Regions from separate parts of the Homo sapiens genome. Here region 1 is linked to region 2. The links come from fine-mapping of genetic effects on gene expression. A gene starts in region 2. The other region holds a variant in brackets. All regions are shown on one strand. Distances are from middle to middle.

The links. PIP is the estimated chance that this variant, and not a neighbour inherited with it, causes the effect. A credible set is the group of variants that fine-mapping cannot tell apart.
Region 1: its variant is the best candidate, but not a certain one, in a credible set for the expression of MED21 in cerebellar hemisphere (GTEx, PIP 0.57).

The regions. Positions count from the first base shown.
Region 1 is chr12:26,964,465-26,968,862 of GRCh38, reverse strand. FGFR1OP2 (FGFR1 oncogene partner 2) reads right to left here. Exons shown (of 7, transcript NM_015633.3): 7 at 2,215-4,267. The coding sequence ends at 4,130. Among named protein-coding and RNA genes, the nearest start is that of FGFR1OP2, 28 kb to the right of the region's middle. The variant A/C (reference allele first, on the strand shown) is at 2,179.
Region 2 is chr12:27,020,172-27,024,569 of GRCh38, reverse strand. MED21 (mediator complex subunit 21) reads right to left here and starts at 2,012. Exons shown (of 4, transcript NM_004264.5): 1 at 1,949-2,012. The coding sequence starts at 1,990. RefSeq lists an enhancer at 1,691-1,980.

The sequences.
Region 1 (4,398 bases), 56 kb after region 2:
GGTTGTAGGAAGAGGTTTACTCTGAATTGTAAATTTTTTAGTATGCTAAGATTTTTAACAGTGTACATTTATTTTTTCATTTAAAAAATAACAAAACATGACCTAACAAACTTCTGGGAATTTGCACGCTAGAAATTACAATAAATAAAGTTATGTATATGGATGTTTACTGCATTATTTTGTATTAAACTTTGCAAACTATCCATCAGTTGGGGGAACTGATGAATAAATTACAACTCCATAATGGTAGCTACAAAAATGCTTGATTTACAGGCATCAGAAACTGACTGGCTAATGCAAACAGTACAATTAGCTGGAAGAATACTGATGCTGTTTGCTTCAGGACATTTCCCCGTATGCATCTGATTTTTACATATTTGTAATTATATGGGTAATTTATGTTAAGCTTTTTAATGCATATTTAGGTACTTTTTTCTTCTTGTTGCTAGCATCTTCAAGCCATAGACTGTAATCAACTGTATTGAGTGAATATTGACATTTAACTATTCCCCTACTGTAGGATATTTAGGTTGAATCCAATTTGTATACTTTAACACTACCATAATGTAGCTTTGACCAGGGGTAGCAGTGGAGGAGAGAAATGGTAGGATTCTGATTTATTTGGAAGGAAGAGCCAACAACAGGATTTGCTGATGAATAGGATGCACGATATGAGAAAGTGGAGTCAAAGTTGCCACCAAGGTTTTTGGCCTTAGCAACTGCAAGGATGGAGTTGTCATCAAGCAGGATGGGAAAGAGTATGGAGGCGTTCTGGGAGGTTTGGAGTTTGGCTTTGGACATCTTAAGCATAAAATTTCTCTTTGACAGTCACAGCTGCATGAATCCGGGGTGAGAGGTCTATGCTGGAACTGTGAATTTAGGAGCCATCAAGCATAGAGGTGGTATTTAGTCATGAGACTGGGTGAGATCACCAGTGAGTAGAGACACTGCACAGAATAGGTATAAGGACTAAGCCCAGTGGCTCTCTAATGTTAAGAGGTCAGCGAGAAGAAACAAAGGAGACTGAGGAGCAGCCAGAGAGGTTAAAGGAAAAAGTGTCTCCTCAAATTCCAATTAGAAATTATCATCTTCATCAGTATTTTACTAAAAAATGTTCTCCTATTTCACTCTGACAATGAAAAAAGGTAGTGACCACCAAAATTATGGATCTACGATTGTCCATTTTTCATTGAAGCAATTTTTTTTTTTTTTTTGAGATGGAGTTTCACTATTATTGCCCAGGCTGGAGTGCAATGGTGAGATCTCGGCTCACTGCAACCTCTGCTTCCCAGGTTCAAGCGATTCTCCTGCCTCGGCCTCCCAAGTAGCTGAGATTACAGGCACCCACCACCATCCCTGGCTAACTTTTTGTATTTTTAGTAGAGACAGGGTTTACCATGTTGGCTAGGCTGGTCTTGAACTCCTGACCTCAACTGATCCACCTGTTTCGGCCTCCCAAAGTGCTGGGATTACAGGGAAGCAATTTATTTCTATAAAATTTTAGAAGTCACCTTGATATTAAAGAATATAAAATTAGAGCAGAAATTGTGAGGTTATAAATTGGTTTTTAAGAACTTTCTTATATAAAATAAAAATATAGTTGATAGATGAAAAACAATAGATGTCTTAGTTTCCTAGGGTTACTCTAACAAATTACCACAGGCTGGGTGAATGAAAACAACAGAAATTTATTTCCTCACAGTTCTGGAGGCCAGAAGTCTGAAATCAAGCAGGCTTGGTCCTTTCTGGAGCCCGTGAAGAACCCATTCCATGCCTCTCTTGCAGCTTCTGGTGGTGGCTAGCAGTCCTTGCGTAACTCATTGCCTCTGTCCTCATGCTGCTATATCTGTGTTTCATATCTCCTCCTCTCTTATTGTAACGACACTAGTCACTGGGTTTGGAGCCCACCCAAAATCCAGGGTAATTATATCCTGAGATCCCCTAATCACATCTGTAAAGACTATTTCCAAATATGGTCACCTTCCCAGGTGTATCAAGTTAGGACTTAGACTTACCTTCTAGGGGACATGATTCAACCTACTACAAATGGTAAGAAGTTCTGCAGGATCCACACTAAGAAGCTGCTAATTCCTAAGGAATACAGATAGAGGTCACTGCTAAGTAGTTTTGCACTAAGAAGAGACAAAAAACCTTAAAATTAAACCATATATAAGAATA[A/C]GGGTAAGCACTTTTCAAATTAAATTGGAGACCATACCAATTTTAATCATTCATCTTTAATAATAAAATAGGTTCCTATGCAGTACATACCTCAAACATAAACTTAAGGTTCTGTTTAACAACAACCAAAAAAAAAAAAAAAATAGGATGGAAATGTGTCACTAAATAACAAAGTAAATGTCTTTAAACATGAAGACCTTAAATTCATATCCAAGCAAAAAGACGAAGAATAAGTTAACCCAACTTGTTTACAAAAATAATTATTTATCAAGTAAGCTTTTATAGTAGAGCTGCCTCAATGAACTGCCTCAGACTTAATCTCAATGGTGTAGCTTGAAATAGATTTCCTTTATTAGCAGGGATAAGAAGTATCTGAATGAATGTGTCATTAAATTAAGGAATACTTTCCCAAAAACAATAAAAAGTTTAAAAATAAAAACTGTCATTTATTTATAAAATATCAAATAAGGCCTCTGACTGAAAAAAAGAAATCTATATAATGTTTGGGCCATTAGCCCTTTTCTATTCAATCAGTCTCATCCACCCCATTCACCCCAAACTTAAGATAAAAAAATTCTCAAGTGTAGTTTTGAATTTTACCAATATATGAAATTATACATAAAATTACCATATAAAGTAATATTTAACAAATTATATACTCAAAGTATAATTTTCCATTTGTCTTAATTTTAATACGTATTCAACATAAATGAGTACAATATATTTAACCATGTTTGACACTCTTCTTTTATCCCTTTTTAATACAATCACCACAACATAAGAAAATTTAGGTTTCAACTGATGTTAAAGCACATTTCTGTATCTGGTGGTTTTTAAAAAAATTACATATTATATATTTGACATTTTAAAAGACAACAGAAACAAATCCACAGATTACTCCACCTTTACCCCCACTTTCAGCTGAAAGGTTTTAAGAAAAATCTTGCAGGTTATGAGGACCAGATGGAGCTTAAAAACAGATCCGGAACTTTTTTTTTGAAATTGTATTTACTTTTTTTTTTTGTATCTCAAGAATACTTAAAGGAAAAAAAAAAGGGTTCTATGAGCCAGAGGAATTCCCAATTCACTTTGAAATTACCATACCTATCTTGCCATATCAAACATTTCAATTCTGTTAACTAAATGAACTACATAATATCCTTAAAAATCAGCCAGAGAAGAGAAAAACAAATCTCGTCTTCATTATTGACTTTGAACCAAAACTTATTCTTTCAAAGGAGTAGTTTAACCTACTAAATATGTCTATTATAAGATCTTCTTTCTTAGAAAGTAGTATTCCTTCTTTTTCATTCCTGAAATGGTATTTCTTACACTTAAACAAGTTATGGACAATTGTTAGCTAAGTATCAGTTATGATAAATTGCTAAAATTAAATTATCTGTTTAAGGTACATATAACACATTCCTATAGCCTTTAAAACTGTATTTTCTTTCACAAAAATTTAAATAAATGTGAAAGTAGGCAATCACTAGAAGTCTCATGGTACATAAACTTTGCATCAACTTTGACGCCAAATAAGGATGAAATTTAGCGTACAAATCCTCCGTTCACAAAACAGTGGCAAAAATTTATATTTTTAAATTGGTATAATTTTATGCATTCTCAAACATTTACTGGGAATATTCAAGTTTACCTAATTAATCACCCAGAAAGCCAGCAGTACTGCCAAAAGCTCTTGGTATATTCAGTAGTCACTGTGAAAACTTTTCATTTCTTTACCATTTGGCAATGGCTCAGTTTCTATTTTCCAATTATGTTTTGGAATAAAGTCTATGACCATTAACTATGCATTTTTTGTTGCTATCTCATAGCCCGTGCACTGTACATATTTACAGAGAAAAAAATAAAGGATTGAATTTTCTGTCCATTCATTCATTCACTTATTTGACCATTTGGAGCCATGTAAGAAGCTCACAGACTCAGAAACTCTTCAGCTCTTCCTCAGACTCAAATCACTGTTGGTCACTAATGCTGACAAAGAAGTACTTTCCGACGCATCATCTTTCCTTAGGTTCAAAAATGATTCTCGAGTTATTTGAAGGATCTCTCTCAAGCCTTTGTTTTCTTGCTAAAAGGCAAGCAAAAACAAAGATGCAGTCACTATCTACAAGGTAGCTACAACATCACAAACATATGTTAGGAAAAACTGAACATATGAAGGTATAACAAACAAGCAAGGTCTGTAATTGGCATTAATCT
Region 2 (4,398 bases):
TCTATCCAGCAGCATCATTACAATTTGATTTCGTAAAACCTCAAAGGAGTAGTTCCCTGAGGAAGGCTGGCTGGCAGCCCAGGCAAGTCCCTGCAGGGTAGAATTTATCTTGGTGAATTCAACACTTAGAGGCTGGTCCTCTCAGCTTAAAAACTAGTGTTATTCACCCAGGGTAGATCAGTTTTATCACAAGTAGATTCACACTCTTCAAGTGTACAAATTCTGATGTATTAAGAAAAATGCCAAGTTATTAGCTTACAGTGAGGAAAAAAAAAACTGGCAAGGAAACCAGGTACTTAGGTTTTCCTATCAGCATGTTTTCTCTCTAGCCCCTTATCTAGGACATTAAATCACAATCAGACAATGAGAAACATAACTATCAATGGAAAACTATTTAGCAGAAAACAATCTAACTCGTAATGGTAATAAGTACACCCATTGCCGCATGGGAATACCCACTGACGTCTTGGTCAACGGGATGCACATATTATGTCAGTCCCCTATGGTTATAATAAAGCTGAAAAATTCTTATTGCCTAGTGACATCGTAGCAGTACTAACGCTGTAGCGCAATGCGTTCCTTAGTGCTTGTGGTGATGCTGCTGTAAATCAACCTACCACACTGCCAGTGTATGAAAGCATAGCACATACAATTATGTGCAGTCCATGACACTTGATAATGATACTAAATGACTTTGTTACTGGTTTATGTATTACTGTTTTATCGTTATTTTACATTGTACTTCTACTTATTAAAACAAAAAAAAAAGTTATCGCCAAAACCATGCATTTCTCAGAACATGACCCCTTCATTAGGGGCCCATGACTGCGCATCCTCTGGCTTTGCTTCTACTTTCCACTCAGGCATAGTGTGGAGGAAAAATAACCAGAAGGAACAAAGCTGGGGAGCTACTTACTAGACTTGGCCTTTAATAGAGAGTAGAATTTGGGGGAGACATTAAAAAGGACTTGTAGGCCGGGCACGGTGGCTCACACCTGTAATCCCAGCACTATGGGAGGCCGAGGCGGGAGGATCGCTTGAGGCCGGGAGTTTGAGACCAGCCTGGACAACATGGTGAAACCCCGTCTCTACTAAAAATACAAACATTAGCCGGGCGTGGTGGAGGGCGCCTGTAATCCCAGCTACTTTGGCTCAGACAGGAGAATCGCTTGAACCCGGGAGGCGGAGGATGCAGTGAGCAGAGATCGCGCCACTGCACTCCAGCCTGGGCGAAAGGCACTGTCTCCAAAGTAAAAAAAAAAAAAAAAAGAAAAGAAAAAAGACTCAAATAAGCGGAAAGACATACGAGGATTAGAAGATTTCCTATCATAAAGATGTCCCCAAACTGATGTATTCTGAGGGATGGCCAAGAGGCAAGAGATGGAAGGATACTCTGGGCCCAAAGGAACGAGCTAAGATGAAAGAAAATCTCTCACCTCACCTCAGCATCGCTCCCGCACCAACCTGAAAGCGCTGGTGAAGGAATACTCTCGGCTGACATTTCATTACAAAAACCCAGTCATCCAGAGCATGAGATCTCCCTTGGTGGATTAAAATTGATGAGGAAAGAAAAAAGCTCCTGCTTCTCCTCCCAACCCCCAAAAGAAAGAGAACCCGTAAGCACCACTGACAAGAAAATAAAACTGTCCTCAGGGAACACGACAGGACCGCGCAGCCCACAAGTCCTGGCGGCCTCACCCGGACAAGAACGATCTTCCCGGTCTCCTCAAGCGAAAGAGTCTGCTCCCTCCCGCACCTTCAAGCACCGCCCGGCAGCCGGCCTCAAACCTCCGAGTTCGCGGTGGCGCCTCCCGAGAGAGCGCTTTATGCCGAAGCCCTGTCTCTCAGTCCGCTCCCCACTTTCAAGTTTTGCCTCTTGGGCCCCTTTCCTCCCTTGCTTTACCTCAAGAAAGAGAAAGACAGAGGCTAATCGAATGAAATTCCTCACCGAATTCACAGCGTCCTGAAGCTGCGTGAGCCGATCCGCCATGTTCCTACCGCAGCAAACAGACGCCAAAACAGCTGCTCTTCCGCGACTGGGCAGCTCTGGCACGCGTCATGGCCAATCACAGGGCTGCGTCCTTGGAACGGGTGGGGTCGGAGAGAACTCCCCGCCCCGTCAGGAGTGGGTGGTACTCCCGAGGCGGCCTTTCTAGAGCGGGCTACACCTGAGGAGAGGCTGGATCTTTTGAGTAACTGGGGGAATGGTCTGGGGTCCAATCGCTTTGAAATACAGTCCAAGAGCCGAAATACTCCCCTTGGGGTTGTTAGGTGTTAAAGGCTTCAGAGATTGTTGGATTCTGCGGGGATTTTTTTTTTTTAAGTAATTTCTCGTACCCTCTCGTGTTTATTTATTGACCAAATTGAAGAGTAAATATATTTATTTTTATTTATTTATTTATTTATTTATTTATTTATTTGAGACGGAGTCTCGTTCTGTCGCCCAGGCTGGAGTGCAGTGGTGCGATCTCGGCTCACTGCCAGCTCCGCCTCCCGGGTTCACGCCATTCTCCTGCCTCAGCCTCCGGAGTAGCTGGGACTACAGGCGTCCGCACCACGCCCGGCATTTTTTTTTTTTTTTTGTACTTTTAGTAGAGACGGGGTTTCACCATGTTAGCCAGGATGGTCTCGATCTCCCGACCTCGTGCTCCGCCCGCCTCGGCCTCTCAAAGTGCTGGGATTACAGGCGTGAGCCACCGTGCTCGGCCAAGAAAAATTAGCTGCACAATTTAGATTTAGAGTTGGGACTTATTGAGAGTTTAAGTGTGAAAAGTGATAATCGAAACTTGGTATTTAAGGAAATTTAGCCTGAGGATAGTCTGGTAAGAAATGAGTTTGGAATCGGCAAATAACAGGTTTGTAGACTTCAAAAAACTCTCATATCCTCTTTCTCAGGCTGATTATCCGTGATTACCTTCCTGTGGCTGCGGGGAAGGTGGAAGACACAGTCCCTGGGGAACTCAGCTTGTTGGATTTATCCCAACACTTACTGTGAAGCACCACTTCTGCTTCACACCAATGCCCCACCCTCAGCCCCAAACAGTCTACAGACTTACTGGAGCCTCATTAAGAACGTGGATGAGGCATGTTCCCCATAATGGGACTAATGAGAAATCACTCTGTAATTTGTTTTCACTGTAACTTGGGGGGATTCTACAACCTTCTCCTCCCACCCTCACTTGAGAGTGTACCTTACGGAATGGCTGCCACATGCCAGGAAGTATATCCAGTGCTCAATTTGCAAAGATGAATAAGCCAAGGACTCACTAAGGAAGGTTTTGCAGTTGTCCAAGATTAAGATGAGCTGGGCCTAGAATAGGGTGTTGACCCTGATAAGCGGGGAAAGAAAGACTAAAATATATTTTTGAGAAAAAAAATTAATATGGATTGGTGACTGATTGGATATAGTTTAGTCCACTCCATAAGAATACTAAGTTTTGCAGCCTGATTGAAGGGAACTTGGGCAGTTGAAGTAGAGAAGCCACTTCAAGACATTCATATTGTGACACAGTTTTTGTCCTGCCATTATCTTCCTAATAGGTCTTCTGTGCCTCCACAGAGACCTCAGGTTGATGTCCAACTATCTCTGCCTGGTTTTCAAGATTTACTATAATCTGGCTCCAGCAAACAGACCCAGCCTCACCTCCTGATAATTTTCTGAGTGAAATAATCTGTTTCAGCCAAGGTCCCTGACCCCTTGGTTTTCCTGGTTCTTCAGCCTCTTTCGGCCACGGATCTTTTTAAGAATCAGATAAAAGCTGTGGACCCTTTCCCCAGACCAGACTCTCAACTTAGCCTACATTTGAAAAGGGGTTTAGGAAGCTCTTGAAGCTGTAGACTTCAAGAATAACCCACCTGCCAAATATAGTCTGTGCATCTAGCTCAGGATTTCTCAATGGCTGCACTCTTGACTTTTCAGGCTAGATTATTCTTTGCTGTGGGATGCTGACCTGTGCACTGTAGGATGTTTAGAGCATCCCTGTCCCTTACCCCTGAGATGCCGGTAGCATCCCCCCAATCCATTTATGCCAACATAAAGTATCTCCAGATAGTCCCAAATGTTGCTGGGGGGCAAAATTGCCCCCAATTGAGAACCACTGGTCTAGCTCTTTCCTCATTCTTTACCTTTCCCAAAGCAATTTCTTTCCTGCTATTTAATCCTTACCCTACCTTTTTAAGCTGTACACTTCTCATATAAATTTTATGAATTGCTAGAGTCCATAGGGACCTCTCCTTTCTTCCTTTCATGATTTGGACACTTTCTCATATGCTTTTCCATTTGCTTCTGTTGCATCGCCAACTGGATTATATGGTTTTAGGAGCAGGAACCCAGTATTACAGATCTCATATTTTAAACACACAATTTTGGTGAGTACTTTCTTTGAAACTTTATATTAT